Regions from separate parts of the Homo sapiens genome. Here region 1 is linked to region 2. A link means that fine-mapping ties the variant in region 2 to the expression of a gene that starts in the linked region. Tissue or cell type: whole blood. Region 2 holds a variant in brackets; the other region holds the start of a gene. All regions are shown on one strand. Distances are from middle to middle. Region 1 holds the start of JARID2-DT (JARID2 divergent transcript). Region 2 overlaps JARID2 (jumonji and AT-rich interaction domain containing 2).

What was found.
Region 1: JARID2-DT starts here. The variant in region 2 is fine-mapped to the expression of JARID2-DT in whole blood (INTERVAL, PIP 0.92).

What each region holds. Positions count from the first base shown.
Region 1 is chr6:15,236,536-15,252,740 of GRCh38, reverse strand. JARID2-DT (JARID2 divergent transcript) reads left to right here and starts at 7,367. Exons shown (of 1, transcript NR_187237.1): 1 at 7,367-8,818. JARID2 (jumonji and AT-rich interaction domain containing 2) reads right to left here and starts at 6,672. Exons shown (of 18, transcript NM_004973.4): 1 at 6,157-6,672. The coding sequence starts at 6,201. JARID2-AS1 (JARID2 antisense RNA 1) reads left to right here and starts at 4,045. Exons shown (of 2, transcript NR_120502.1): 1 at 4,045-4,231; 2 at 4,597-4,926. RefSeq lists enhancers at 326-1,101, 2,790-3,631, 6,595-6,694, 6,805-6,854, 8,044-8,557 and 2 more and silencers at 3,820-4,299, 4,420-4,479, 7,465-7,724, 7,735-8,044.
Region 2 is chr6:15,258,481-15,274,685 of GRCh38, reverse strand. The region is part of intron 1 of JARID2 (jumonji and AT-rich interaction domain containing 2); the gene reads right to left. Among named protein-coding and RNA genes, the nearest start is that of JARID2-AS1, 18 kb to the right of the region's middle. RefSeq lists enhancers at 5,086-5,643, 5,644-6,202, 6,203-6,760, 6,761-7,319, 9,314-9,453 and 1 more. The variant C/T (reference allele first, on the strand shown) is at 7,723.

The sequences.
Region 1 (16,205 bases), 22 kb after region 2:
ACATGAAAAAACAGATTCATTTGGTTTCATTTTTATTAACAGGTAAGGCTTAAGGATTTAAAATGGAACAGACCTTCCACAATATCTCATAAGTAAAACAATATATAATTAAAGTTGCCAGATTACAAGATAGAAGCTTCTGAACTCCATGAATTAGGTGCAAAATTACTAATCTTTCTGCTCCCTGCCACTCAGTAAATGGCACAATTATTTTAACTCCAAAAGTAATACAATCACCTCAGTAGGACTACTTTAAACTGATCCACACTTTACATGTTACATGGCATGAAGCAGACAGGGAGTCCAGTTTAGCATGCGGGGATTAAGGCTAAACACAGTTGGAAGCACTCTTATCAGAGATGACAAGAACCAGAAGTTGGTTAGTTAATGGGAACAAGTTTGTTAGATAACAAACAATTTTTAAAAAAAAAAGGTATTCCCTAACATTTTGTATTAACTGACAGACAAATCTACTTTTAATTACGGTTTTTTTGATATGAGGCCATGGGTCTTCTTTCTGAGCTTAAGTCTCTGAACGTTCTGTTGTTCTACATTATGCTGTTTTGATTGTTGGGGAAGTCTGGGCATAACTGAAGTTTGGTTCTTAAAAGGGAATCACTTGCAAAGCAATGTGTGTGGACAGTCCTTTCAGATTTTCCCAAACATCTTAAAAATGTCTGGCCCACATTTTTTTTTGAATGGAGTCTCACTCTTTTGCCCAGGCTGGAACGCAGTGGCAGGATCTCAGCTCACTGCAACCTCCGCCTCCCAGGTTCAAGCGGCTCACTGCAACCTCCGCCTCCCAGGTTCAAGCGGCTCACCGCAACCTCCGCCTCCTGGGTTCAAGTAATTCTGCTGCCTCAGCCTCCCGAGTAGCTGGGATTACAGGCATGCGCCACCATGCCCGGGTAATTTTTGTATTTTTAGTAGAGACGGGGTTTCACCATGTTGGTCAGGCTGGGCTTGAACTCCTGACCCTCATGATCCGCCCACCTCAGCCTCCCAAAGTGCTGGGATTACAGGCATGAGCCACCACGCTCTTTTTCACACTGTTTCAAGGTTGACATAATACTTAACTGTAATTACAATAATAAGCCCAACTGGAATAACCAGATTTGGGAACAAACAACTGACACTTGGCAAGACTTCTGGGTGAAAGCCAAAGGGGACAGAGGTACATCCCAGAGGTGGCCAGGACCTGTATCCTGGGATATCAGTCAGGACATACTGCAGCCAACAGGGCAAGCAGGATGGGTAGACAAAAGGTGGTTAGTAGAGCTGCTACTACTGTAATCCTGGGGGAGACGTGGACCAGTAACATCAGGATGATCAGAGCAATGCAGCCAGAATTCAGACAATGTCAGGAGTGTGAGTCCTCACACCATCATGAGCAAGGGCAAACCACTAGCTTAAAAATGTTCAGCTGGCTGGGTGCAGTGGCTCACGCCTGTAATCCCAGCACTTTGGGAGGCCAAGGCGGGCAGATCACCTGAGGTCAGGAGTTCAAGACCAGCTAGGCCAATATGGTGAAATGAAACTCCATCTCTACTAAAATACAAAAATTAGCCGGACATGATAGGGGGTGCCTGTAATCCCACCTACTCGGGAGGCTGAGACAGGAGAATCGATTGAACCCGGAAGACAGTGGTTGCAGTGAGGAACCACTGCGTTCCAGCCTGGGTGGCTGAGCAAGACCCTGTCTCAAAAAAAAAAGGAAACAAAAAAACAAATGCTCTCTAGGTTAGCCTTCACCAAGTGTTTTAACGAACTACGCTTTTAATATGACATTCTCGTGTCTTCTCTGAAAAAAAAAAAAAAGTTCCATTTTGAAGGTAACAGACACCAATTATATACTCCAAAAGATTGTCTTGTTCTGAAGGAGGAAAGTTTAACATTTGGAGTACGGTATATATTAACACTGGAGTTATTTCCAAGGCACTTGGAAGTGCGTCAATAGCCTTCAGCCCAGCAACAGGGACTGGTTTAACCCACTATGAGGAAACAGGCATTACCGAGTACCAAATAATTCTAGTTGTCTATTTGGGCCAGTGGCTACAGGGACACACAAGTTAGGTATTAGCCTACTGTAAAATAATATAACCTGGATAATAAACCAAGTTGGATTACTTGTCGACATAATTTTTCTTTCAAATTTTAGTGACACTTTGGACTTCATTGTGTCTTCCTTCCATACTGTCCCTGTACAGTGATAGGAGCTAAACTGCCACTGCCCTGCACCTAAGTAACACAGAGCAAGATTTTCCACTACTAGAAACAAGTAACTGAAAAGCCACGTAAACATCCCAGGAAAGAAAAAATACAGCAATAAAATAACGTGCAAATTTCCCCACCACCCCACCAACTGTAAAATAACGTGACTGAACAATTTGTGATGAATAAGTTTTAAAACAAAAAACCTCATAAATCCAACCACTGTATATTTTGTGTTCTTCCTACTTTTTTCTTTGTAATTTTACGTAGTTGTAATTATAGTAAATCCTTTTGAAGCTTATAACAAAAACTTTTTCCAATTTTTAAATCATACACTTTCAAATCAGAAAATTAGATACTTAAAACTTACAGCCTAGTGGTACAAATTCTGCTTGAGCTGTCCTAGAAAATCAAACTGGCAATTTGTTTTCATGCTAACTACAGGAATTACTATCTTCATAAGGCAGAGATTCTCTATTTCAAACTGATACCTGATCAAATAGTGGTGAAGCCCCAGTATCCTATCTGTTATTCTCCCTAGGAATAACCAGGCAGTGGAATGATGGAAACGGCAGAAAATATCTCTAGAGCAAAACATGCAACTGTTTTTATTGTCCAAGTCGATTGGGGCTTTCAAAGGCAAATGTTTTCAGTTATTTAAGGTATTGCAGTGGGAGTCGTGCTCAACACAATTAAGACAGGATTACACTGCAACTTATGAGTTTCTCAAGGACATCATTTATTACGAAATATAACAATCATTTCTCCCAAAGCCTACTATCGACAATCGCACCCCCAACTCTGCTTTGCTAAGGTAATAAACTAAATGGCAACTCAGCAGGCATCCCGGGCTTTTGAGACCAATTGTGGGAAACGTGCTGCCTTCCACCAGCTCAAGTAATAATGCCACCTTACTTATAAAGAGGCATACTGTTTTACATCTTCCATGCACATGATCTTTTCAGTGACTTAGTTAAGTGGCAATGGCAGGTATTTTTCCATTTTACAAAAGAGAAAACAGAACGCCAGCCTCTGGTTTCCCTGCTCAGAAGAACTAAGCCCAGAGCACCTTGAGACTTAAAGGAGTCCTGTGCTCTTCTCAGTACATTTATCAATGACAAGTCTTCCTTTGGTCCAGCCCCCCAAAATAACAGTCAGTAGGTACAGAGCCGGCACAGCAAAGGAAAGCCCCCCCACCGTAGTACCACAAAGCTTCCAGAAAGAGCAACAGTTGCTGCTGTGCAGCATCATCATGAAAGGCATCCGGCCACATCCTGCTGAAGCACCCCTAACACGACTTCAAGTGACAAGGTGGCCAAATCCACAACGCGGTCCTCCAACAAAGCACAGCTTTCCCTGAATACTTTCATTTCTTTACATAAGCACTGGAGAGGGGACACATGCACCACGCTAGTAATGCAACACCATCAGGAGACCTGGAACAGAGGAAGTGAAAACATTCCTGCAGAAAGGAGGCGCCTCCTCCCCGCTCCCCGCTTCCCAAGTGGCATCAGAACAGGGTCCAGTGGCACTCCTTTGGGGACCTACGGCTCCCCGGCCCTCACCTGGTGGGAAGCGCGACGCTCCGGAGCGGAAGGCAGAGGCCGAGCGCATCTTCCTCCTCTTCCTCCTCCCACGCCGCAGCCCGGCTCTGCGGCAGCCCCCGCCCCCGCCCAGCTCCCTCCTCCCCCCGCCGCCCCGCCGCGCCTGGAGCCTCCCGCCCGACTTTTGACGTCACGGAGGAGGAGGGGAAGGTTCCACCCGAGCCCGTCCCTTTGTGACGTCACAATGACAACAGAGTGCGGCCGGGAGCGTCGGGGAACCGAGCGCCGCGGGGGGCGGAGGGAGGGAAGAAGGGCTGGGGCGCCGGCGCGCGGCGGGGGAAGAACCGGGGGGCGGAGAGGGGGCGCGCTGACGTCTCGCCGGCTTAACCTGTTGCTCTCGAGACTGCGTCGGAGCCCGCAGGCAGGGCCGCGGGAAGCCGGCCGGGCCGCCGCCGCCATGCTCGGCCGTGTGCGCGGTGGGGGGCGCCCGCTGCAGCTGTGCGCCGCGCGCCCCCTCCCCGGCACGCCCACGCCCCCGCCCCCGCTCCCACCCCCTCCCCGCGCGCTCTCCCCTCCCCGCGCCCCGCAGGCCGCGCCACCCCCGCGCCCCACCCGCCCTCCTGCCCGCCTGCAAGCCGGCCCGGGTAGACCGGTGCCCGCCTCGCGCGCCCGCCTAGAGCCCGGAGTATGCCCCCTATAGGCCGCGCGCGCGCGCCCGCCCGCCCAGCCCCGGCCCAGCCTGCCGCGACCCCCGCGGGCCGTCCCTTTCGCAGCCGGCTCGAGGACGTCGGGAACACCGGCTCTGCTCCCGGTGCATTAACTCGTGCCGTGCCTCCCGCAGCCGCCGCCAGCCACGGGCTTGCAGCCGGACGCCCGGACTCGGAGACACGATCCGCTGAACGCCCGCAATAAGAAAGAAAACCCACCCCACGCTGCTCTCCACCTCAACGAGGTCCGGAATGGGAGGCGGGGTGCGGTTCTCGTCCAAGTTCTACCCCATTTGCTTTGTGGCTGCATCCGAAACGGACGTGCCCCGGGAAGGCGTCCACGCTCCAAGACAAGGTTGCCTCAGTGCAGTTTCTACAGCCCGAGTTTAAACTAGTCCTTTGCATTCTACCCAGCCCTCTGCAATGCGGATGTATTTTAATTCTTAAATTCTTTATGGAACAGCTTTCTAAGTTGGGCTTGATTATTTAACCTTGCATTTCTTTCATAGTTGAAGTTGACGTGTCTAGATAAGGATCAGCTCTCTTGAAGAGGCATTCAGCTTTTCCATTAAATATATTTTTTTACAAAACCAGTGCCCCGAAGGTCATCTCTCATTACACACACCACAATGATCAAAAAGGGAAAATATTAACACCAATTTGTCTACCCAACTTAAATAAACTTTCCTCTTACGTTGCATTATTCCTAAGGTATGTTCATTTGGCCTTTTTTGAAAAAAAAAAAGAGTTATTTAATTTAAAGCATGCAGCTAATCACAGATCACTCGAGTGCATATTTGGTTAATCCCTCGGTCCCCCTTTCCTCCCTCCCCTCAAACTTAAAAAAAAAAAAAAGCCACCACACACAAAACAAAAACACTCCCCATGCCAATCAAAACGTAGCTGTACTATGCACAAAACAAATTTAACTATTCCAAGCCATTTAAATCTAGGAATAATCACCCAATTTCAGAAGCCCAGTTAACAGGGAGAAATTATTTGTAGTTACTTACATATGCATTCACGTACACACTTAAAAACATTAGCCATAGTGTGTGTCCTTTTCCCCTACAACTGGAAACCATGAATTTTTTAAACAAAACCAGCCTCATTATTAAAGTCAATCCCAACAAATGCATTCGCTGTAACATGATTCCCAACTGGTTTATGTTGCAAACCAGATAAGCCAAAACGACCACAGACATTAAATTTGATGTGCCAGTGCAAAGAGAAGATCGCCATAATCGGACCCTCGATCGCAACTTAAAGGGCTTCCAACACACATGCGTTACACGATTTTTCCAAATAACATTAATAATAATAACACAGGCTCATTTGCATGCAAAGTGCAATACGGGGCCAAATCCGCTTGAGAATGCAGTTTAGTTACATTACCGCAGCCACCCCCCACCTCAAGCTCCACCAAAATCCCTTGCCTTTCATCTAAAAGTAGATTATGGTTGTGTCATTCGAGGTCAATTTATTCACTTGAGGTATCTCTACACCAGTCTGTTTTTTCAACCAAACTAGGCAGACACCACTTTGCTTGAAAAGCCCTCTTTCAGAAAAAAAAGAAACAGCCTTATCGGACGCTGTGTTTAAAACCCTTCAGAGGCAGAATTATCTATAAACTTGACATTCACAGCCATTGCTTAAAACTGCAAGTCAAAGGATGTGTTGTTAGGAGCACTTACGTATTTCTTCTGAATGATATTCCTCTTGGGTCTTTCCTTGCTCATTCTGAGATCCAAATGCTGATTGCAAAAGGGGACAATTGCTTCATGAATTTAAAGCCGTCAGAAATTTGCAAAAAAATATCCTGGTGGTTTTTATTGTTGTTGGTGGTGGTTGATCTTGTAATCCGACTTTTCTTCCTCTTCCCCCAAAGCCAGATTCGCCTTGAAATAAATCCGAAATTGGGAAGGAAAAAAAAAGAGCCAAAGACGAACGAAGCAAACAAAAAAAAATTCACTTTAGTAAAACACTCATAATGGAAAATTTCCCCCGAAACACATACACACACACACAAAAAAAAACCGACGCCCTTCACTCCCCCCCCTTTTTCCTCCAAAAACTACATCAGCGAAACGTGAAGGTCCTTAGTGTCTGATCCGTAGTTACATCTTGGAAAAGAAAAGGGAAAGATAAATAAAAAATGTTGGAAGTCACGTTTGTGCTGCAGCAGCAGTGCGAGCAGAAGAGTCAACTCCAGCGGCGGCGGCGGCGGCGGCGGCAGCACCACAGCGAGGGCTCGCCGAGTCTCTTTTTTCCAAGCCCCCTAACCAATGAGAGAGAGGCTATCCAGCCCAACTTTAAATGGACTCTGCTTTTATACAAGTTAGGGCTCCTCGGATAATTCCCCGCCGGGCGCCAGCCGAAAACTCCCACCGCTCAGCCGCCAGGCGCCCGCTTAGCCTGGTGCCGACCGCCCCTGGCCCAGTCCAGGGCACCCCCGCAGCCTGGCCAACCAGACACCCGAGCGACCTCGACGAACCCCTCCCAGGCAAGCCCTCGGGCGTCGCTCCCACGCCGAGCCCAGGCGTGGAATTGAGAGAGGCTCCCTAGCTCAATGCATGGCACGCTCCGTCGCTCCACCTCACCCCCTTTCCCCTGCCTGCCGCTCACCCCACGGCCGCCCCACGCCAGCCCCCGCCACTGCCTTCGCGTCTACCTGCAGCCGGGCTGCTGGGTAGGAGTGCCCCAGGACGCCCGGCCCCGGGGAGAGCCGCCTATTCCCGGGGCACCTTAGAATGGTCCCCTTGATCTTCTGGAAGTTGTAGTCCCCCGACTACAAAATGGCTATGGCCACGGAAGCTGGGAACTACAATTCCCAGCCTGCCCCGCAAAGCCTGTCACTCAACTCCCCTCCCTCCTCCTCGCCCCCTCCCCCTCACTGGCCGTGCCAACAAACGCTTGGACGTGTCCCGCGTGCGACACTGCTAGAGGCTGGCTCGGGATTGGCCCGCGGAGCGTGTGGTCCGCGAGCGAGGAACTCCCCACGCCGGCCCTCCTCCGCCCCCCGGGCCCCGGCCCCCCTCCCCTGGCGGCCGCCAGCCCCCTCCCCGCGCGCCCCGCCCCCACCCGCGGCGCGAACCGCCTGTGGAATCGAGGAATCGCGCGCGTGCGGCCCGGAGCCGCGGGGGAGGGACGCGAGGCTTCCCCGGGGAAGGCCTCGGAGCGTGGCGGTGAGGGGGGCGGTGTCAGGGAGGGGTTGGAGCCCGTCCTAAGGAAAACTGGGCCACGCACCAAGAGGAATCCTCGGTGCGAACTAGTTGATCGGCGGCGCCTGCTGCTTGTGCCGTGCAGCCGGTGTCACCTCAGGACAGCGCCTCGCGTCTGTGTACAGAGCGTGCTGCGGGCGCCTAGGGTAGTCCGAGGTCACCCCTCTCCGCGCCCCGCAGTCGCGCACGCCCCCACGCGCGGGGTGGGCGGTGGCCGGGGGTCGCCGAGTGGAAAGGCCACGCCCCCCCACGCCCGGGCTCGGCACGCTGCCCCTGGGTCGCGAACGCGCCTCCGCTCGACCCGCTTGGAGGACGTCGCTGGTGGCCCAGGAGTGAAGCCCCGGCGGCTGCCTCCTGAGAAAAGATAGCCGTGTTTAAAGAGACTGAACGGGATCTTTGCTTTGCCGGGCGTATTTTGTGATAAAATACCACAAAATGTTGAGACAAAAATGAGTGGAATATGGAGACCGAGCCGCACAGACACGCAATTGTAAGGAAACATCTCGAACACCGAGTGCCAGGAATATCAACTGTCCGGGCCACGCAAGAGCCTGCTTTTTACCTGCCTCCAGCCCCCTGTCGTGCTGGTTTAATCGCTGAAACAAATGAAGTAGCAGGCCCTGGCATAGCGCTTTGGGCCTTCGCCTTATTAACAACTTTGTCAAGTCTCGCATCGCGATTCTGCCTTGTTAATTTCCTTGTTTTTCGCTGTGGTTTTGGAGAAGCAATGTTTTCCATGATCTCTCAGGCTAGCCTCGGAATAAAACGTGGCAGAAGCGCTCCCGCGAACACATACCCATATATTTTATTCTACCTATTCCCTAGAGTCTGCTAACTTCAAAAGTCTAGATACTCACACAGCTGTTTACTTGCAGCAGTATTTGAAGAGATAACCTTGGTGTCTAGAAAGGTCTCAGAAACTGGAGGTAAGAGACCTGGATTCAAATCGCGCCTTGGCCACTTCCCAAAAGGCAACCGAGAGCCTCTCTGAGCTTGTCAGTTTCCGCATCTGCAAATTAGTGGTGATCAAACCTGTGGGGATGATTATGTGATAAATAACAGTAACCTAGTTTAAAACTAGGCACGTTATTGGAAGCTTTCAGTAAACGAAATAAAAAGCCTTTTCGAGAGGGTATTTTCCTTATTATTTTTACCTTTTCAAAAAATCTGAAATGAAATAATTTTATCTAATGTTCACTTCACAATTGGAAAAATAAATGATCTTTTGTGCCCTGAATACTGCAAAACTTGTACGCTGGTGCCATTTCCTGGGAAGGATCCAATGGGGCAGACTACAGTAGGGCCACCCAAGGTGTTTTCTAAAAACTTTCTGATCATTAGGACTGGCATACTGGGAATCTCCACGTCTCCACGTTGTTAAGATTTTAACCAGCTTTCTGTAAGTTTAACGCAGATACCTCATTCCCTAGGCAAATATTAATGAACAAAGGTGAGTTTCTTTTCTGTTCCCCTAACTAGCCCTGGGGCCTGGACTTCTCAGTCCTGGGCTTGCGAACTCCCCTGCCAGGCTACCAGCTCCAGGTCACCTGGTGTGAAAAACTATTGTGTAAAGTTGAGGCCTCAGGGCAGAGGGGAAAGGAAGGAATTTGCTCATTTCCAAAAGATTTGAATAATATTAGTGTTGTTTTCCCTGAAAGAGAAAAAAGGTTGGCCTTCTTAGTGGTTGAAAGATTTTCCTGTTGTGAAAGTAACCTACTCCTAATGAACTTCCTTCCCCTACCATCTTGGCAAGACCATCCAAGGCTTTTCTTGCTCCTTCCTCCTCTTTTTCATTTTCTGTAAGTCAAATGCAGCTTTTCTTATGATGATTTTCACATCTCAAAGCCTTGACCTCTTCAATTGGAGGGGCAGGGATGAGAACATGTCTAGGTACATTGATTGTATTAGACTCTATGCCAGCACTGTCCTCATCCCTGAGGACACAGGAAGCTCACAGCTCAGTAAAAAAAAAAAAAAAAAAAAGGCAGAGTTTACAATGGATTGTGATACCTCCAAAAAGTACTATATCAGCAATGTAGAAAAGAAGCTAAAAAGAACACATTGCTGAGATGACTAGGTGTTAAGGAGTTTTGAAGTAGGTGTAGGGGTTCACATACATACTTAAAGAAGTGCATATTTCACCCCTTTGCATTGCATCCTATTTGTTTACATTCTCCACTTTTAATGTTTCTAGTTCTTCTCTCCAAGTAAAAAGGAAATTCCCTAAAGAGATGATGTTGTCTACTTCTCATACCCTCCAAAGCTCCAAAAACTTCATCAAATTTGAAAGATGTCCAGTAAATGCTTACTGTTGAATATTTCACCAAAACTATAATGCCCAACTATTTAGACTATTGCCCAACATTTAGTCTCCTACCATCATCTTCCATTCCATTCTGGAACTCTGCTAGTTTTCCTCTTGCATTATCTAAATCCAATGTAGTGTTATACGTTCTTCAAGGCCCCAAATTCAGGCCCATTTCCAATCCAGCCTCGCTGCTTGGCCTACTCATTCCTGGATTCTCATTGCCCTTCCTATTTTGGCAATAATTTTTGAGCTTTAAAATTTTATTCTGAGGCCGAATGTGGTGACTCACATCTGTAATCCCAGCACTTTGGAAGGCCGAGGCAAAAGGATCACTTGAGCTCTGGAGTTTGAGACCAGCCTGGGTAACATGGTGAAACCCTATCTCTACCAAAAAAAAAAAAAAAATTAGCTGGACGTGGTGGCCCAGGCATGGTAGTGTGCACCTGTAGTCCCAGTTACTTGGGAGGCTTAGGTGGGAGGATGGCTTGAGCGGGAGGCTGAGGTTGCAGTGAGCTGACATTGCACCATTACACTCCAACCTGGGTGACAGAGAAAGACCCTGTCAAAAACAAACAAAAAAAAATTGTTCTCTGTTGTATTTTTTTCTGATTATGTCATGTAAGTATCTTGTATCTCTTAATTGAAAATTGGATGGGGCCATGATTTGTCTCATATTGAGGCAGCCATTGGCAATGAGGGAATCAGATGTTTCTAATATTAAGTCTCTGAGTGACCATATGCCATTCACCTGCCTCATATAGGCCTTGGGTCTGTCATTTATAAAATGAGCAGGTTAGGCTGGGTGTGGTGGTTCACACCTCTAATCCTAGCACTTTGGAAAGCCAAAGCGGAAGGATTGCTTGAGCCCAAGAGCTCAAGACCAGCCTGGGTAACATAGCCAGACACCATCTCTACAAACATAAAATTAAAAATTAGAGGGTTAAATTCAGTTATTTCCCAAAGACATTTCTACACCCAACATTCTCTAGTCCTACCTTTACCTTTGTATTATGCTGCTTTTCCCCCTCAGTGCTGGCCCCTAAGTAAACTCAAATCCACAATCATTCAGTAAAAGTTGCTAGGTTAAGTTTCTTTACACTTGTATGTTATTAATTTCCAAAAAGACCTCATATTTATCCGAGCTATCTAATGATAGCTTTCATTTGTATAACTTTAATAGTGTTTAAAGCACACTGTCATAATAATTTCATTTAAACCATAAAACAACTTAGATCAAGACAGGTATTACTGTCCTCACTCTTCAAATGTGAAAATGAAATATTAAGAGGTTGTGATTTGCTCAAAGTCATACAACCAGTTGAGTGGATGAGCCAAGGGTCAAACTCAGGACTCTCGGCTCCACATACCCAGTGCAGGCCACCTCCCTGGTTTTCCAAAATGGGATTCAAGACATATGATTCCATGAAATGTTACTAGGTGGGACTGAAAAGAAAATAATTCTTCGATGAAATAAATTTGCAGACTGCTACCTTATAATAAAGATAACTCGATTACTTTACTGTAGGGTTTTTAGAAATCCCCAAAGGGGCATGTAGTTTTACAAACTAATTTGATCACAGAAATCTTTTTTTAAGAAAGAGCTGGACCTGGCCAGGCACGGTGGTTCACGCCTGTAATCCCAGCAATTTGGGAGGCCGAGGTGGGTGGATCACCTAAGGTTGGGAGTTCCAGACCAGCTTGACCAACATGGAGAAACCCTGTCTCTACTAAAAATACAAAATTAGCTGGGCGTGGTGGCACATGCCTGTAATCCCAGCTACTCTGGAGGCTGAGGCACGAGAATCGCTTGAATCCGGGAGGTGGAGGTTGCGGTGAGCCGAGATCCTGCCATTGCACTCCAGCCTGGGCAACAAGAGCAAAACTCTGTCTCAAAAAAGAAAGAAAGAAAGAGCTGGGCCGGGTGTGGTGGCTCACACCTGTAATCCCAGCACTTTGGGAGGCAGAGGCGGGCAGATCATGCAGTCAGGAGTTCGAGACCAGCCTGGCCAAGACGGTGAGACCCCGTCTCTACTAAAAATACAAAAAATTAGCTGGGTATAGTGGTGCACGCCTGTAATCCCAGCTACTCAGGAGGCTCAGGCAGGAGAATCGCTTGAACCTGGGAGGTGGAGGTTGCAGTGAGCCGAGATCATGCACTCCATCCAACCTGGGCAACAGAGCGAGACTCTGTCTCGAAAAATAAAAAAATTTAAAAAAACAGACCTTTTAAGTCCAGCCCCCAGCCCTCATTGCTTTTCCTAAATTGCCTCAGAACACCAAGGAAAAAAAAAGAAGAAGAAAGAGCTGGTTACCACGGAACAGTTTTACAGACATGCTTCACCCAATATGATGAATTTATGCTTCATAAATGATTGCTGACTGACAATAATTCCTACCTAAGTGACTGAATACCTTATGTGAAGTTTCTAATTTTATATAGGTCTATCTTCATATGTGAGGGAGTAAGGAGAGGGATGTAAAAATAATATTTGAGTGACATCAGGTTTATAAATAACTATGAACCAGTGTACTCAGAAGGTGGGGGCTTCCATTGAAAGAACATAGAACAGCTATTTCGAGCCAACTGAGATTTGCAAGAGTATTTTAAAACACACTAGGAGGTAAACTCAGATGTAAACAGCCCTCTTAAGAGTGAGTGATGTCAAGGAGACATTAGTTCTTTTTGTTATTCAGTGCTTCCTGTCCCCAAATTACAGTCTTATTTGTCAAGCCTCAATAAAATGCCACAGCACAAACCAAATACAATAAAATGATGCTTTCAACCCTACTGGTCGTCTGTGGACCTTGTTTATACAAGTCACTGAAAGTCGCTGGTACTTTGGATTGTGTAAAAATTTTGGACTATCATTACTATTCTGCTTAGATTGTCTTGTGTTATTGAAAGAGAGCTGGCCCTGATTCAGAAACTCTGGTAAAGCAGCCAAGACGGGAAACCTGCAGTTCCTAAGAATAGACGTTACTGTTTATAATAATACTGCACTCTGTGTTTGGTGGGAAAAATCAACTTTATCAGTGATCAACTAATCCACAGGGGATCAGTATGAGGAAACTGAGGTATAGGGATTACAGGGATCCTGTGAGTAGGCAGGGAAAGGGGGAGGAGCTGTATGAATCAGGATGCCTTCAGTTGCAGGTGAATGGAGCCCAGATGAAAATGGCTTATGGAAAAAAAGGAAGAGGGGCTTGGCTCACCTATCTGGAAACCCAGAGTCCGAGTTTCAGGGCTACAAAGGATGTCATCGTCCTTCCTTCATTCCTTCATTCTCTTTTTCTCTCCATTCATCTCAGCATTTCCTTCTTCTGTCATCCTCTCCAACCAGCAGAGATGATAGCGCCAAAGAAAACTCCTTTGCGGCCAGGCACAGTGGCTCATGCCTGTAATCCCAACACTTTGGGAGGCCGAGGCGGGCGGATCACTTGAGCCCAGGAGTTCGACACCAGCCTGGTCAACAGGGCAAAACCCCTCTCTACTAAAAATACAAAAATTAGCCTGGCATGGTGGCACGTGCCTGTAATCCCAGTTACTGAGGAGGCTGAGGTGGGAGGATCGCTTAGCCCAGGAGACAGAGGTTGCATGGAGCCGAGATCCCGCCACTGCACTCCAGCCTGGGCAACAGAACGAGACTGTTTCAAAAAACAAAAAAGAAAACTCCTTTCCCACCATGGACATGGCGGGTAGAGCAGATTTTGTTATCCAAAGGGGAGGGAGACAAACACTCCAGGGAGCAAAAAAGAAAAAAAAAAAAAAAAAATATATATATATATATATATATAGTCTACCACAGAAGCTACTAGTTCTTCCCTCTGTCAGGGCCACAGAAGTGAGCAGGAAAGGAGAAAATAACCTTTTCACCATCAGAATCCTAGAGATTCATTGGATGATAGACCAGTCCAGCTCAGTCTAGAGCTACTCTCTCATTTACCCCACCTTGCACACTTCAAGGTTTTCACAGACATGATCCCTGCCTAAATACTGGTTGATCTACGTATCAAACACTTTTGCCCATAGTTTCTTATCTATGAATCTATAGAATTTTCTAAACAAAAACAGAGCTTATCTCTTGCCAAATTGGGACATCTACAATTTATATTCTGTTTTCTGAAATCTCAGTGTTTCCAAAACCCAAGATTCACTCACACCTTACAGAAACCCAGTGCCATCTCCCTTTCCGATCCTACACACAGACACATAGAGTGAAACAGAAAAGATTCAAACATTGGCAGTTACATTGTGACTGAAACTTAGTGGATTATTAATTTCCTGCTTTTGGTCTTTCTCTCAATTGTCAAACATTCATTTTAAAAAAAAAATATTTTGGCCAGGCACGATGGCTCATGCCTGTAATCCCAATACTTTGGGAGGCCGAGGCGGGTGGATCACGAGGTTAGGAGATTGAGACCATCCTGGCCAACGTGGTGAAACCCCGTCTCTACTAAAAATACAAAAAGTAGCTGGATGTGGCGGCATGTGCCTGTAATCCCAGCTACTCAGGAGGCTGAGGCAGGAGAATCTCTTGAACCCAGGAGACTGAGGTTGCAGTGAGCTGAGATCACACCACTGCACTCCAGCCTGGGCAACAGAGTGAGACTCCGTCTCAAAAAAAAAAAGTGTTTTGGCCAGCCTCGGTGGCTTATGCTTATAATCCTAGCACTTTGGGAGGCCGAAGCAGGCAGATCATCTGAGGTCAGGAGTTCGAGACCAACCTGACCAACATGGAGAAACCCCGTCTCTACTTAAAAATACAAAATTAGCCGGACGTGTTGGCGCATGCCTGTAATCCCAGCTACTTGGGAAGCTGAGGCAGGAGGACAGCTTGAACCCGGGAGGCAGAGGTTTTGGTGAGCCGAGATCGTGCCGTTGCGCTCCAGCCTGGGCAACAAGAGCGAAACTCCGTCTCAAAAAAAGAAAAAAAAAAAAAAAGACAGTGTTTTTATGTGTCCATGTGTACACGATTACGAAATTGAGGGTTCTCAAACAGTGTATGTTACCTAGAAAACTTTAGGCATTTATGATTCTAAACAAATACAAAGAGGAAAACTATAAAATCAATGTGGTTATTTAATACAATATGGCTACTGGGAAGATTATACTGGAAATCTAGACACTTGAGGTTTCATCTCAGCTTTTTGTGATGTCACTATGCCTCATTTTCTTCATTTGTGAAAAAAGGGGATTGACCTAGATGGACTCTAACACTCTTCCAAATCTAATAGATTATGACTGTGATATTATTTTATGTGTGTGATATTATTTTATGTGTGTATTAGTCTCCACCCCCCAAGGCTCAAGTGATCCTCCTACCTCAGCCTCCCAAGTAGCTGGGACTAGAGGTGTGCGCCATCACACCCAGCTACTTTTTGTATTTTTTGTAGAGATAAGGTTTCTACATGTTGGCCAGCCTGGTCTTGAACTCCTGAGCTCGAGCTCAAGGGATTCACTGGCCTTGGCCTCCCAAAGTGCTAGGATTACAGGTCTCAGCCACCTCGCCAGGCCTATTCCCATAGCCTTTGTTATAATCTCTTGTTATAATGTTGGGCTTGCTAGGTCTCAGGGACAGGCCTCAGGAAACAGTTGCTCTCTGACTTTCTCCTGCCTATTTTTTTTTTTTTTTTTTGAGATGGAGTTTCACTCTTGTTGCCCAGGCTAGAGCGCAATGGCTCCAAATCTTGGCTCACCACAACCTCCGCCTCCTGGGTTCAACCGATTCTCCTGCCTCAGCTTCCCAAGTAGCTGGATTACAGCCATGTGCTACCATGCCCGGCTAATTTTGTATTTTTAGTAGAGACGGGGTTTCTCCATTTTGGTCAGCCTGGTCTCGAACTCTCGAACTCTCGACCTCAGGTGATCCGCCCGCCTCAGCCTCCCGAAGTGCTGGGATTACAGGTGTGAACCACCGTGCCCGGCTTCTCCTGCCCTTCTTTCACCTGCCCCAGTGCAAGACACTAATCTGCTTTTCTTTTTTCTTTTTACTTTTTTGAGACAAGGTCTCACTCAGTTGCCCAGGCTGGAGTGTAGTTGTGTAATCATAGCTCCCTGTGGCCTGAAACTCCTGAGTTCAAGCAATCCTCCGGCCTTGGCCTCCCGAAATGCTAGGATTACTGGCATGAGCCACCTCGCCAGGGCTTCCCCCACCCCTCATCTTTCGGATTCTGGGTCTTAAAGGGTCCACCATATATACCCTAGGGGAAGGAA
Region 2 (16,205 bases):
ACACAATATTGCCCTGGCTAAGTCACCCCTTCACACACAAAAAGTCGAGGTCTGAAATCTCCCACTCACCTCCTGGGCTGCTATATAAGAAGCCACTCTGGAAACATCACTTATTTGCCTGTGTTAAATTATCTGAATGAAGGAAAATAAATTTGGATCTGCAAATGCAACAGCATGCCAAATTGCCCTTTTCCCACACATTTCCTCTTTTACAAATAGAGCATGTTTCTTCAGAACAAAATACTAAATAATGCATATAAATGTTTAGTTTTTCTCTGTAAAAATTAAAAACAATCCCATTTCTCTAGCAGATAAAAATGCACCAGTGTCTTCATATGCCTACCTCTAAAGAACCACAAAAAAACATTAAAGACATCCCCCAAAACTATCTAAAATGAAAAGGGACAAATTTCCTTAATGCCCCCCAAAAACTCCTTTTTCAAAGATAGAGAAGCAGGCCAGGCACAGTGGCTCACACCTGTAATCCCAGCACTTTGGGAGGCCAAGGCAGGAGGATCACCTGAGGTGAGGAGTTCAAGACCAGCCTGGCCAAAACGGTGAAACCCCGTCTGTACTAAAAATACAGAAAATTAGGCAGGCGTGGTGGCGGGCGCCTATAGTCCCATCTACTCCGGAGGCTGAGGCAGGAGAATCACTTGAACCCGGGAGGCAGAGGCCACAGTGAGCTGAGATCGTGCCACTGCACTCCAGCCTGGGTGACAGGGCGAGACTCCATCTTAAAAAAAAAAAAAAAAGATATAGACAAAATTTTTCAGAGAAATGCAGAAGGGAAAAGAAAATGGAGCAGTATGTTCTTCAGTGAGTATCCCCAAGAATGACACCAATCTTTAGGTGTCATTTCATTCCATCTAGGATCCTGACTCAAAGCCAGGGTCCTACTAATTTACAACATTTCGAAAAATCGTGCTTCAAGAAAACTACCCTGAGAAACAGCTGTTTTGTTTGCTTGTTTGTTTGTTTTTTGAGACAGAGTTTCGCTCTTGTTGCACAGGCTGGAGTGCAATGGCACAATCTTGGCTCTCCGCAACCCACAAGTCCCAGGTTCAAGCGATTCTTCTGCCTCAGCCTTCCAAGTAGCTGGGATTACAGGCATGCGCCACCATGCCCAGCTAATTTTGTATTTTTAGTAGAGATGGGGTTTCTCCATGTTGGTCAGGCTGGTCTTGAACTCCTGACCTCAGGTGATCCACCCACCTTGGCCTCCCAAAGTCCTGGGATTACAGGCGTGAGCCACCACATCTGGCTGAAAAACAGTTTTTTAAAGAACACAACCATTAGTTGAAAATCATTCCCTTGGTTTTATAGTTTGTCAAGGAAGAAAATATAGCAGGGACAATTGGAAAAGAGATTATATGTGCACATCCCATGTGTACATCATTTGGCTATTAAATTCAGGGTATGTTTACAGAGAGCCCCGCTAAGTGTATTCAATAGCTCACAAATAAAACTCAGGTATTTTAAAATAAGGGTAGGGGAGACCACTACATGCAACTGCGATGTTTCCAGGCATAAGGCATCCTCCCCACCCACATGAGGAAACTTAGCACGTAAAAAATGAGGACCCAACAAAATCTAGTAAATGCCATATGCTGAATCCCCTAACTGCTTTCTCTATAGATGGCAACTTACTAGGCTTTATTTTGTAGGTTGATAAGAAAACACAAATATAACCTCTTAACCTAACTCCAGGAAGAAAAATCATTAAGATTGCTAATTTAACATTTTAGAGAATGATTTTTAAAGAGCCAATGGGAGCAGGGAGAAGAAAATAAACTTAGTGACTATGGCAAGAATAATAAACAAAATCATAACAACAAATAAAATGTATAGCCAGTGCCACGCAAAATTGAGTGGCCCAGGTACTATAATTATCACATCCATTTTACAGATAAGAAAACTGAGGCACAGAGATTGTGACAGAGGCAGGCTTCAAACCCAGGACTATGGCTGCATAAACCTGAGGTAATACCACCTTCCAGGATAGTGAAATCAAACACAGGCTCCAAAGTGAAACATCCTGATTTGGGGTCAAGTAGTGGTAGGGGGGTCCAACCCTGGCCCCTTTACCTGCTTTGTTTCCACAGCTGCAATTTGGGGGAAATGGCTAAGTCACAGAGTTGTGGTAAGAAGTGAATACGTAAAATGCTGTCTGTGTAAAGCATTTAGGGTAGGTATACATTCAATCAATGGTAGCTATTATCCAGTAACAACTTCTCTTTTTTAAAAACTATATAAGCTTTCAAGGTGAGTTCAGGATAGAAACCAGCAAAACAGTAAGAGCTCTACGCAGAAATTCCTGACACTGCTCTTTGTCTACTAAAGCAAGACATGGAAGCTTTGGGAAGTACATGATAACACTATGCAGGCAACGCATTATAGCTAGCTGTCTTCCTTCCAGAATGAAAACTGAAGAATGGTCTTCAGAAAGGACAACATAGAGGGCCACGGGGCCAAAAGATGCATTTTCAAGCAATGCTCAAGCCTTACAATTGCATCACTGTTTTTGTTTTTTTGTTTTTCTGCTGTTTTTTCGTTTTTTTGAGACAGAGTCTAACTCTGTTGCCCAGGCTGGAGTGCAATGGCACGATCCTGGCTCGCTGCAACCTCCACTTCCTGGGTTCAAGCGATTCTCATGCCTCAACCTCTCCTGAGTAGGTGGGACTACAGGCGACAGTCTCGCTCTGCCGCCCAGGCTGGAGTGCAGTGGCATGATCTCAGCTCACTGCAACCTCTGCTTCCCAGTTTCAGGCGATTCTCCTGCCTCAGCCTCCCGAGTAGCTGGGATTACAGGCACACACCACCACGCCCAGCTACTTTTTATATTTTTAGTATAGATGGGGTTTCACCATGTTGGCCAGGATTGTCTTTAACTCCTGGCCTCAAGTGATCTGCCAGCCTCAGCCTCCCAAAGTGCTGGGATTACAGGCATGAGCCACTGTGCTTGGCCCGCATCACTGTTTTTAAACATCTTTATACTGTAGGAGAGTGTCTCTTCAGTCCCTGCTGGTTCAGAAAAAGGTGAGATGAGGTCTCACTATTGTTGCCCAGGCTGGTCTCGAACTCCTGGGCTCAAGCAAGCCTCATGCCTTGGCCTCCCAAAGTGATGAGATTACAGGCATGGGCCACCACATCAGGCCTGGATCTTCTATAACAATAGTTTTCAAACTTCTGTTGGTAGCAGAGATCTTATTGGGAACCCTACCCTTCGATGCTCAGGTTGGGACAGAGATGTGAGATTTAAAAAAGAAAAAAGAAGCGAACCACTGCACCAAGAACAAAATCAGTCCCAAAGTCTTGCTACACGAAGTGTAGGCCCTGAGAGTTTGTTAGAATGCAGAATCCTAGGCCCCACTTCAGTCCTGCTGAATGAGGAGCTGCATTTTAACAAGATCCTTGTGTGATTAGAACCCACTGGCCTCAAGCCCTCCTGAACCTCCCTTGGTCCCAATCCTGCATGCCCCCTACACATGTCCCTCCCTACCACCTGAGAAAACAATCTCCAATCGGACAAGTATACAAAGTAGACAATAAATATTTGTAGAACTAAAATGAAATAAAATGAAAGGCTACAAACTTCTGAAAGACAAAAATCATAGCATTCTGGAGGGGAACTCTGTGTTCCCATCACACAATACTTGCAGCTAAGGAAAACAACTGTGGGAAAGCAAAGTGTGGGATTTGCCCAAGGTCCCACAGTTTTTTCTTTTCTCTCCTTTTTTTTTTTGAGAGGGAGCCTTGCTCTGTTGCCCAGGCTGGAGTGCAGTGGCAAGATCTCCGCTCACTGCAAGCTCTGCCTCCTGGGTTCATACCATTCTCCTGCCTCAGCCTCCCAAGTACCTGGGATTACAGGTGTGCACCACCATAATTTTTTCTATTTTTAGTAGAGACAGGGTTTCACCATGTGGCCCAGGCTAGTTTCAAACTCCTAGGCTCAAGTGATCTCCCCACCTTGACCTCCCAAAGTGCTGGGATTACAGGTGAAACCACCATGCATGGCCTCTGGTCAGCTTTTTCAAGGCAGAGCAAGAACCTAAAGGAAATGCCAACACCTTAATAACACAGTCACTGCTAAGTCCAAAGGTAGAGTTTCAAGTTCTGGTAACCTGACATGACTCGCAATCATAACCCTTCCTAAATAAAGTACCCATTCTATGCCTGTAAAATGAGGGCAAGGGATTGCAGCTACCTAACCAATAGGATCAAATACATGAAGACCAAGAAAAACCCTGAGCAGGCCAGGTGCAGTGGCTCGTGCCTGTAATCCCAGCACTTTGGGAGGCCAAGGCGGGTGGATCACCTGAGGTCAGGAGTTCGGGACCAGCCTGACCAACATGGAGAAACCCTGTCTCTACTAAAAATACCAAATTAGCCAGGTGTGGTGGCAAATGCCTGTAATCCCAGCTACTCCGGAGGCTGAGGCAGGAGAATCGCGTGAACCCAGGAGGTGGAGGCTGCAGTGAGCCAAGATCACACCATTGCTCTCCAGCCTGGGCAACATGAGTGAAAGTCCATCAAAGACGGAAGGACGGACGGACAGATGGACGGACTGAAGGAAGGAAGGAAGGATCGACCCTGAGGCAAATCATTTCATCAGTTACAAGTGCTAGGATCTACAGAAAGACTAAGAAATGAGTATGTTCCCTTTGTATACAACCCTTGTGTTAATATTCTTTATGAAAAAACAAAAAACCTCTACCAATGTCTGCATATAATTACTCAGGAAAGAAATGACAAGGTTGCAGCGAAGCTAACCAATTTCCCAGCAAAACTCAACTTGAGACCATGTTTACCAATCTTCAGTCTGTCAAGTAAATTCTAAGTATCCTTCCTGGGGATCCCATCCAAGTCACTTCTGGACTCTGTGGTCTATATAGCCAGTAAAAACACTGCAGACATACATAAACACTGCCTGGATATTCTTTGCAAATGTTTGTAAAGGCTCCTAGACAAAGAAACTGGGCCAGGCAAGGTGGCTCACACCTGTAATCCCATCACTTTGGGAGGCTGAGGTGGGATGATTGAGGCTAGGAGTTCATACCCAACCTGGGAAACAATGCTAGACCCCATCTCTACCAAAAAAAAAAAAAAAAAATTTTAAAATAGCCATCTCTACAAAAAAAAATTAAAAATTAGCCAAGTGTGGTGTCATGCACCTGTGGTCCCAGCTACTAGGGGGTGGGGCAGGGAAGGCAGGAGGATCTCTTGAGCCCAAGAGTTCAAGGATGCAGTAATAAGCTGTGATCACACCACCACACGCCAGCCTGGGCAACAGACCCTGTCTCTTAAAATAAAATGTAAAAAATGCTGAAGGTTCAAATACTATTGAAAGATTAAAAATCCAACTTTAGGAGGCAGTTATCGAGTCAGAAACTTCTTTCCGCCCCCCCCAACAAGAATGCTCACAGCCCAGTGGCCTGGTCTAGGGACTAAGGGTGGAGCACAGGGAACAGGGCACTCAGATTAGGAGGTTTTACAGAGGCCTGGGAGGAGACAGAAAGCTATTTAACGGTTTTCCTCCTCCCTCAAGAAAGGGGCAACTACCTCACCACTGGCAAGCATTTTGAGGCCACCAAAGACATGATGGTTCAGCACATCTTTTGATAAATTCTAGGACATTCCCCAAGCACACACCAGACAAGTAGGCCTTTAAATTTCCTAACGAGAAACAGGCACTGGCATTTCCTACCTTGCCTGCCATGGGCACACGCACACGCCTGACTTTAAGAGGTTTAACAAAAGAGTTAGAGCCCCGAACTTCCTTGACTTTAATTAAACTTGGCTTCCACTTCTGAAAAATCCTGAAGTTTTTATTTTGTTCTGTAGTCTCACTAATGCTTTTAAATGAGAGATGCTGTGAAAAGGAAAAGCAAATTCTTTGCAGCTGCGTGTGAGCATTCTGCCAACTGAAGCACAGGAAGAAGCTCTCCCATGTTAAAAATTTCCAACTGGGAGATTTACAAAACAGCAGGGGAGGATGGATGGGGCAGAGGGAGACGTGTGCATGTGAAAGAGCTGCAAAAAGCTCCCTTTTTTGTGTTCAAGTCCCAGAGGCCTTCGGAGGCTTGTCATGCTTCAGCGATTGCCACCCCCTCCCATTTTACACCCCTTCCAAAGCCACCGTCCTTTCCATCCAGGCTTTCGGATATAAGTACACATTCTGCAGAACCACTTCTTAGCTGTTCCTTTATTTTACCCCCATCTCCCCAGGCCGCCCCAACACTCATTCTGCCATAACTGGATAATGGAAAGAAGCTTAACAGGGAGGTAGCAACCATTTCCCTCTGACTAAATGAAGTCCTGGCGTTAAGCTGCACTCCTCAGGAGGAAATGACAAGCATTTTGGCAAATGAACTTTTTTGTTTTCTATTAGCAGCAGCAAGATATCCACTGTTGACAACAGCAAAAGTTCACAAAGATAAGCTTCTAGGCTGTGTTTTTAAAGCTCTTCGGAAAATCTAGCTCTACCCTTACGAAAAGCCAATTTGGTCAAAAATGCTGTCAGAAGGGTTTGGAGGTTTGGTTTTAAATTTCCATATTAAGTGATGGGGTTTGGTCTTTTCAGAGAAGGAAAGAGTCACCACACTATCACAATTTCTAGGAAGCAGGCATGCACATTAGGTATGGTGTCCCACTGTCGTCCATCACCTATCCCCTGTTCTGGGGTGTGGGGTTGTCCATACTATTAACCGATCCCCGCCGCAGTTAAGCCTTAGGAGTTGCAACCCCACAGCATCCTCGGGGGCTGCTGATGTACACTTCATGGAACCAACTTTCTTCTTACTAAATCCTCCGCTGAATGCAGTTTTTTCTCAGGGCCCCAAGCAACACAAACACATCCTCAGGAGTGCAGGTAAAATATAAACCCTCTGGGGATCAGCATGCACACCACCCAAAAACCCCCTACTGCATATCTACAGAGGTGCACAGTAACAAAGCACTGGCAGACAGACAGGAAGCACTCCATAAGGTCCTCGGGAACGCAACCATTGAGTTCGCGCGTCACACCGGACTTCTGAAGACAGGACAGCCAAAAAATATCCTTCATAAGGAGTTAATGCCATGGCTTGAAACAGTCAACCAGAAAATTCACTAGAACCAGCTTACTCCATTCCCAGAGCATTCAGAGTCTGTCTACATGTTACTATAATTTGAAACCTGATTCTAAGAACATCCTTGTACCTAGGCCATTTCACAACTGATGCTCTTGCAGAAGGTATCGGTTCCCTCCTGGGCACCTACTGCTGTTTATAACCAGTTGGTTAGGCTTCAGGATCCTTTCCTGGTGGTTGCTGACATGCCTTTTGCTGCCCCTCAAGCAGATCTTTGAGCTATCTCTATGTAGATAAAAGGAAAGGCCTCACTCTGTCTTATGTCAGATACTGATAAGCCGCTTTAAGATTTTCTTTTTCATGGGAGTGGGAGAATAGTTTAGGAGAGTAAGAGAATAACACTCCAGGAAGCCCAGGGTCTCTTTGGACACTGTGTTCAGAGTTTCAGAGTGTTGAATTCACCATCTCTCCCCACAGCCAAAGAAGACAACTTAACTGTTTGCCATCCAGTAAGTTGCAATATGTCAGCATTAACCCAAACCCTCGATCACGCAGCTAGAAGCAATACTAATATACAGGTGGAAGAGAATGCCTACAATGAAAGGGGCACAGTTGTGCCTATTAGAGCACCTAATCTCCACTCAGGGACGCA[C/T]GTGCACCCCACATTACAATGGAGAACACTGAGAATTTAAACCACGGCCTGGTGATCCTCCTGGACATGCAGCTAATAAGTGGCTGAGGGACAACCAGTGGTCAGCTGGCGCCCTGATTGTTATTACAGCAGTGCATTTTCTAGGAGGCAGGCCACTGGCGAGGTCTCCTGGGGTCATGAGATGACTCTGACATGAAATAACAAACACACACAATCAGATATGCGTCCACAAAGCTGTTTCTCACCCTGCCCCCAAAAAATGTTTAAACATTGAGAGTGTAGAACTTTCAAGCTACCAAAAGAAAATGTTTTGCCTTAAAATGACAAAAAAGCAGAAGAAACTTTGATGAAAGATTCCTAAAACTCAAAATATACTACAAACACCCTAGCCAGGAGAAACACGTTGAGCAACGGAAGTGCAACCAAGCGCTGCTAGGCTGACAACAATGACCATGAAACTGCTGTTTCCTTATGAGGCCCTGCAAATTAGTCCTTCCCCCAGCGGGAGAGGATATGGAGCTCACGGTTTGCTATTTTCCTTTTCATTACTACTATTCCAGGGTGCAGGTAAGAAAGAGAAAGAGAAGGAATTTGGGAAGACGTTAAGAAGTAAAACTCTAAACTATTACTTATGTTGTTTGCTCTCTGTTGGAAGATCATTGTAACTAATAGTTAAAATATACTTGGCAGAGACCGTGCTAAAAAGCTCTTTAAAAGAGGGGCCATACAAGGATCCCCAAACTCTGCTTAATCAGTACCAACACCACAGGAGATTCATCGGACACACTTGTCTTCCTGGGCTCCAGAGACTTCCTAAGGTAAAATGGGAAGACACAAATGTCTCCAGGAGAGCATATGTGACAGTTCTTTGAGAGAAAGCTGATCAGTATTGACCTTTAATTTGGAGACACTAAGCCTCGTGCCATCTCTTTTATGAATATGAGAGAGCACTTTGGGACCTTTTCCAGCTGGGAGGAAGGAAGCACAATTATTCACCCCCGTTGGCTAGGAGACCTGATGAGCTCCACTTTCAAAACCGTAACAGACCAGCCACCGCCCATGCCCTCCAGTTTCCATGAGGCAGAGACCCCTGAGTGGAGAAGGGGTCTGAATGTAAATGAGGGAGGGGCTGGGACAATCCCACACTATCCTGTGAATGACCATGATGCTGGTCCCAGATTCCTGCTTGCCCAGTCCAAAAGCAAGTGAACATGCTGCCCGGGCTCATCAGGTCCCTGGGGAAGAGGGTCACCTTACACTGTTAAGACAGCATTCACGGAGAGCCCTGCAGAATACTCCTTAATTGCCTGGAAAGTGACCTGTCCAATGGGGCTTTCCTGGCTTCTTGGCTGCCAGCCAAGAAGTAGCCTTAACTTCTGTACCCATGGGGAGAGATGAGGGCAAGTCCCAAAGCAGTATCACTTCACAAAATAAATCTCACAGAGCCAAATCTGGAATGTTACTGCACAGATATTTGAAATCCCAGCTGACAGTCCTATACCTATTTGGGGCTGGGAGGATGATTAAGGCTTTAAATCTCAATTACACTTATGGAACTCTAAATGACTGCGTGGTTTTTTTTTGTTTTTTTTTTTTTAATGCAAACCTAAGTTTGGGATGCAGAACTACAGAGACAAGAACTCAGCAAGCACCCCCACTTCCTCCAAAGAGTAGTCAAGTCCCACAGCACAGCCCGGAGCAGTAGCTGTTAAAAGACAAGGGCTGGGCTGGATCCGGCCAACATTACAAGGACAACCAACTGGTCTCATTCCTTAGTCTTGTGCTTTTAAAGGGCAGACGATGTGCCAACTATTTTAAAGCTCCAACACACTAATTCTGTAAACAATAATAGCTACAGCCTGCACACTGCGCACTGGAATGGATTCCTCAACTTGGCCTCATCACTTATGCAGCTGATGAAACAAACACTGACAGCTTTTTTGCATTTGTAAAGGCCCCACAGCAGCTGTGGTGATCCCACCATAGAGCAATGAATTAAGCCTGAAACCCAGCTGGGTCTGAACAGAAGCCTTTTTTGCACAATACAGCAAGACTATCATTGTTAACCTAGGCATTATTGGGAAATATTCTGCATTACATTATAGGGCAGTTCTAACTCAATTCTTAAAATTAGCTCTAATAAGCAATTTTAGTAGGAGGGATGTGGCGTTAGCCTTTGAAAGGCACAAGTATGTGTATAGGTTATAGGTACACCACATAAAAGCGGCCCGGCAGAACACAGATTTCCAGTTAAACAATGCAAAGTTTAAAATATTAACTCCTTCTTAGATATTCTCTCTCTCTCTCTATCTCTCTCTCTCTCACACACACACACACACACACACACACACTCACACCTACCTTCTAAACTGAGGTGGGTGTCTAAACTAGTAAATTCTTGGCTACTTGGCCACTGCAGAGAAAAATATTGAATATAGCTGTCAGGGCTCCTGTTAGTAAGCCAAACTAATGACCTGAGCACAGGAGTCAATTTGGAACAGAAAACCATACCAGAAAAACTGGAGTGTGAGAAGCATGATTAATACCATTAGTAAAGAATTTTTTGACAATGACCTTGAGCACTATGAAATAAATAAGATTCCAAATACTGATTAATACCATCAGTAAAGAATTTTTTGACAATGAACCTGAGGACTATGTAATAAACAAGATTCCAAATACTGACGGACACACTGGTGTTTACAGGCTTCTTATCATCAGGAAGTTCTAGGAAGGCAAAGACACCCACACCAAGACATGTGCTCCTACAGAATCGGAACACGCACTCTCTGCTTCACAAAATGCTTCTCAATACCACTAGGCCACATGACATTTGCAGTCCCCACCATCCACTTCTCTTATGTTGCCTTACAGTTTTTCTAACAATTAAAAATTGCCTGAAATTAGCCAGGCATGGTGAAGCGCAGCTCTAGTCCCAGCTACTTGGGAGGGTGAGGTGGGAGGATCGCTTGAGCCCAGGAAGGTTAAGGCTGCAGTGAGCTGCGTTCACGTCACGGCACTCCAGTTTGGGTAACACAGCGACACCCTGTATCTAAAAAATAAAAATTGCCAGCCGGGCACGGTGGCTCACGCCTGTAATCCCAGCATTTTGGGAGGCCGAGGCAGGCAGATCACCTGAGGTCAGGAGTTTGAGACCAGCCTGGCCAACAAGGTGAAACCCTGTATCTACTAAAAATACAAAAATTAGCCAGGCGTGGTGGCGGGTGCCTGTAATCCTGGCTACTCTGGAGGCTGAGGCAGGAGAATCACTTGAATCCGGAAGGCGGAGGTTGCAATGAGTGGAGATCGCGCCACTGCACTCCAGCCTGGGCGACAAAGTGAGACTCTGTCTCAAAAAAAAAAAAAAAAAAATTGTCTGACTCTAGTTAAGGACCAATCTCAACAATTTCACACCAACTTGGGGAAAATAAATCTAGTAAATTCAGAGAAATCAAAAGAATACAGTAACATCCCTCCTCCTTTGAAGAACTCCTATTTCTTAATGGAGTTCATTACGAAGGGTAGTTTTTCAAAGAAAAATAAAAACCATTTTTGGTTCAGCAGGCTTGGAAGGAGAAGAAAATCAGGGATAATTTCTAGGTCATTCTACTCCCCATAGTCCTCTGCCAAAGAATGCTGACAGAGGTAACCACAAGAAAGTCAAAACCTAAGGTAATGCAGGAAATCTGAAGTCCCACCATCAAGCCACTGGAGCATATGATTCCAGCACAAGCACGTGTGACCAGTGTTTACGGTTTGCAAAGGGGTAGAGGAAATGAGACCACTCTTGGCCACCCACAGTGACATGGAGAGTGACAGGCAGTAAGGAAAATGAGGACCCCTACCACACACACACACACACACACACACACACACACACACACACACAAACACACACCCTCCAAAGGGCAAGCTAGAGCCCCAGAAGGGGAGGGCACAGCATAGGACTCTGCTGAACAGAGCACATCACTTCAGAGGCATGAACTGAAACACAGCTTAATGACAGAAAATAAATTTAGTAGTAATACGTATAAGCACGCTTTTCTAACAAGGTATTCCAAGAGAAATGCAAACAAATCCACACAAAAACCTCCACACAAACGTTCACCGCAGCATTGTTCAAAATAGCCAAACGGGCCGGGCACGGTGGCTCACGCCTATAAATCCCAGCACTTTGGGTGGCCGAGGCGGGTGGATCATGAGTTCAAGACTAGCCTGGCCATCGTGGTGAAACCCCGTCTCTACTAAGAATACAAAAATTAGCCGGGCGTGGTGGCGCACACCTGTAATCCCAGCTACTCGGAAGGCTGAGGCAAGAGAATTGCTTGAACAGGGACCCGGAAGTGGAGGTTGCAGTGAGCCAAGATTGCGCCACTGCACTCCAGCCTGGGCTAGAGTGAGACTCCATCTCAAAAAAAAAAAAAAAAAAATAGCCAAACCATAGAAACAACTCAAATGTCCATCAGCTGATGACTGGATACACAAAGCATGATACATCCATACAATGGAATGTTATTCAGCCACAAAAAGGAATGAAGTACTGATACACACTCCAGCATGAATTTTAGAAACATAATTTTAAAAGACACAAGACACAAAGTCCACATATTATATGATTCCATTCACATGGAATATCCAGAATAAGCAAAAGCACAAAGACAGAAAATGATTCGTAGGTGTAAGAGGCTGGAAGAACTGGGGTGAAGATCACTTGAGGCCAGGAGTTTAAGACCCACCGAGGAAACACAGCGAAACCCCACCTCTATAAAAATTTTAAAATAAGAAAATTAACAGGCAAAAAAAAAAAAAAGGCATGAGATTCTTCATTTATACATACCTTTTCCATGTCAGTGCCTACTCAGACAAAGTCAAAACCATCCCCTGGGCCGGGCGCGGTGGCTCACGCCTATAATCCCAGCACTTTCGGAGGTTGAGGCAGGCGGATCACAAGGTCAGGAGTTTGAAACCAGCCTGACCTGCACGGTGAAACCCCGCCTCTACTAAAAATACAAAAAATTAGCCGGGCATGGTGGCGCGCGCCTGTAGTCCCAGCTACTTGGGAGGCTGAGGCAGAATTGCTTGAACCAGGGAGGTGGAGGTCGTGGTGAGCCAAGATTGCGCCACTGCACTACAGCCTGGGTGACAGAGCAAGGCTCCATCTCAAAAAAAAAAAAAAAAATCCCTGAATTTGTATATAAGGTATACAATATACAGTAGGACGTAGTAGGGAGTACAAAAGTAAATTCAGTATTCCTTATCAACTTTAGAAATCTTTTAACACTCAGCAAGGAGGATTACTTGCTGCTGATGGCAGAAACCACATTCCTTAGAAGAGAAAACACCAGGCCGGGCGGGGTGGCTCACGCCTGTAATCCCAGCACTTTGGGAGGCCAAGGCGGGCAGATCACAACGTCAAGAGATGGAGACCATCCTGGCAAACTAACATGGTGAAACCCTGTCTCTACAAAAAACACAAAATTTAGGTGGGTGTCGTGGCGCACGCCTGTAGTCCCAGCCACTTGGGAGGCTGAGGCAAGAGAAGCGCTTGAACCTGGGAGGTAGAGGTTGTTGCAGTGAGCCAAGATAGCGCCACTGCACTCCAGCCCAGGCCACAGAGCAAGACTCCGTCTCAAAAAAAAAAAAAAAAAAAAAGAAGAAGAAGAAAAAACACCATCCAAGGCCTTCATAGACCGTATATAATGCCTGTCCTGAAAAACAAGCTGTTAATGCCTGAGCAAAGTGACATCGTCCTTTCTTTATTGGGATGACCTCCATGTACAAAGGGAGTAGTAATAGGACTCTTCTTACCATTAAGGTCTTCATTTGTATTAAAGAACTGTAAGCAAACAATGTTTGGCTGTAAAAGCTTTGCAAGTCAAAGATAATGGCCTTCCTTGGTAAACTGACTGTTCTTTATAATCATCATTATTTATACTCCCAAGAGGCTTTTGCCTAATGCTCCAATAAATTCTGGAAAGAAATAACATGACAATTTCAGCAAGTCTCATGGAAGAAGGCAAGGGAAAAAAAGGCTACTTGAATAGAAAGTGTGTTTCATCCTGGGGTATGTCAGTGTTGGGACAGTGATCACATCGCTTAATTAGAGCAAGGAGTACATTTAGAAGAAAGAAGAAAAAGCCACCACTTTTTAGCTTCAGGTATTTCCAAGTGAAATCTATCCTCCCCACCTCCCAATGCTTTCCAGCTTACCAGGGCCAAAAGAAAACCCATTTTAATAGCATCATTAGAGTTTTGATTTATCACAAGTACAGAAGAGCGTGCAGTATTGCACTCCTTATCTCATCCAGACAAGAACTCCATTGAACATGAAGCTTTGCAAGTTCTTATTTGTACCAGGAGTTTCTGCAGAACTAATTGATGGTGTTTATATTGAGCTGGTGTTTATATTTGAGACAAGTATTTCCCGACCTCTTCAACTATGAGACTTGGCCCATGGCTTAGATATGCCCAGAGCCCAGACTCTGGGACACTTAGGCAAGCCAAATATGTTCTTTATTTAAAGGAGGTTTCCTTTCCCTCTGTCAGCCACCTTTTAGATTCCAGCTAAGTTTAAACCACAATGGTTTGGAATCCTAACAGTAGTTTTGAGGATTACAATACAGAATGAGTATTTCAAAACATTTTTAAAGACACAGAACACTGAATCATGCAGTAACACCCACCAATCGCTCCCCTCAAAGTAAGTCAAGTTCAGAAGTTCACTATTAAATCCAGACCCTCCCAAATCCAGACCCTCCCTGGCCCCCTGCACTGTGGAAAAAAGTGATAAACTGCATTGGTATTTAAATAAAAATCTGATCTCTGCCACTCGAAGATGTAATCATCACTGGGGATTACTTTCATGCATCTTTAAAATTCTTTCAGATTAAAAGATCTGTCAGAGTGTCAATACCAATACTATTAAGCAAAACTTGCCTTTACTTAAAGTTTTAGGTCAAGACCTCAAACCAAAAGCAAAAACACTGCCAGGCCCAAACACTGCTGCATTGAGATGAATGAACAACTACTCTGCTGTCCACAGTTTAATCTGACTGTCCCTTTTTTGCATTTGGAAAGTGAACTTGAGTCAGATCTAAGTAAAAATTATTTGCTCCTGGAATGACAGCTCATCGTGGCTTTAAAATCCTTTTTTAGAATGAGGGGCATAAATACATAAATATATAAAAGTAACCCCCATCAAAAAAATGTAACCAGCTAGGAGTCCCAGTGAGAAGGCTGAACAGTGGTTAAAACTGAACGTTAACCAAACCCCACTAAAATAACCTCATCTCCCCAACATACCCATCTAACCCCTGTCCTAAGTGCAGATGAGCGAGCCCTAGCAAACATTTTATGATCTTCAAAAGATTAAGAAGCCAAGTCCACCATTCTTTTGGCATCTCTCAAAGCCAGTGGCATTTGCCACTCCAAATCATCAGTTTGAGAAGGAGATGTGGCATTGTGTATAGGGTCCAGCCTGGTGCTGTCACAGCTCTGGGAAGGCAAGACCATGCAACCAAGCCCTTCAAGGCAGATGAAAACCATGTGCTACCAATTTGACTGGGACTCCAGACCATGACTCCTTATTAAATGCCTTCTATTCACATCAGCTCTTTCATCCTCCAACATCAAGACATTATTACAAGCTGAAAATAGAACAAACAGAGCTTTAGTGCTCTGGGCAGTGTAAGAATGGAAAAGGAGGCAATTTAGGTAAAACCAAGTGTTAGGTTCCACCTCATCTCTAAGGGTACATCTTGCCTGGAGAATAAAAGGCAGGCAAAGTAGTTCATTCAAAAGTATGCAAAAAAGTCATGCTGCTTCTTAGTCACACTGTGAACACTACCCTCATCCTCACAAACCAGGGAAGGCAGAGGGAAGATAAAAATCCCATCCATCCAAAAATATGTCTGGGTGTAAAGAGACTCACACTGCATTTTTCCATAAGTTAGGAAGAAAAACCAAGCCTTGGTGAGAAGGAAAGGTGCTAAGCACCCTTATTATCTGAATTTCTATCCTCTTCCTCGAACAACTGGGATATACTATAATCAGCACAGATGACCCAGAAACAGTTTCCTCTTCAATCTTGCACTTGGAGAATTACAGCCACAAGAATCTGTAAGACTTATAATAACATGGTCTAAATAGTCACAGTTGGTGTTCTGCTGTTTTGTTTTGTTTTGAGACAGGATCTTACTCTGTTGCCCAGGCTGGAGTGCAGTGGCGCAATCTCGGCTCACTGCAACCTCTGCCTCCTGGGTTCAAGCAATTCTCCTGCCTCAGCCTCCCAAGTAGCTGGGATTACAGGCGCTTGCCACCACACCTGGCTAATTTTTGTATTTTCAGTAGAGACAGGTTTTCACCATGTTAGTCAGGCTGGCCTCAAACTCCTGACCTTGTGATCCGCCCGCCTTGGCCTCCCAAAGTGCTGGGATTACAGGTGTGAGCCACCACGTCCGGCTATAGTCACAGTTCATAAAGCA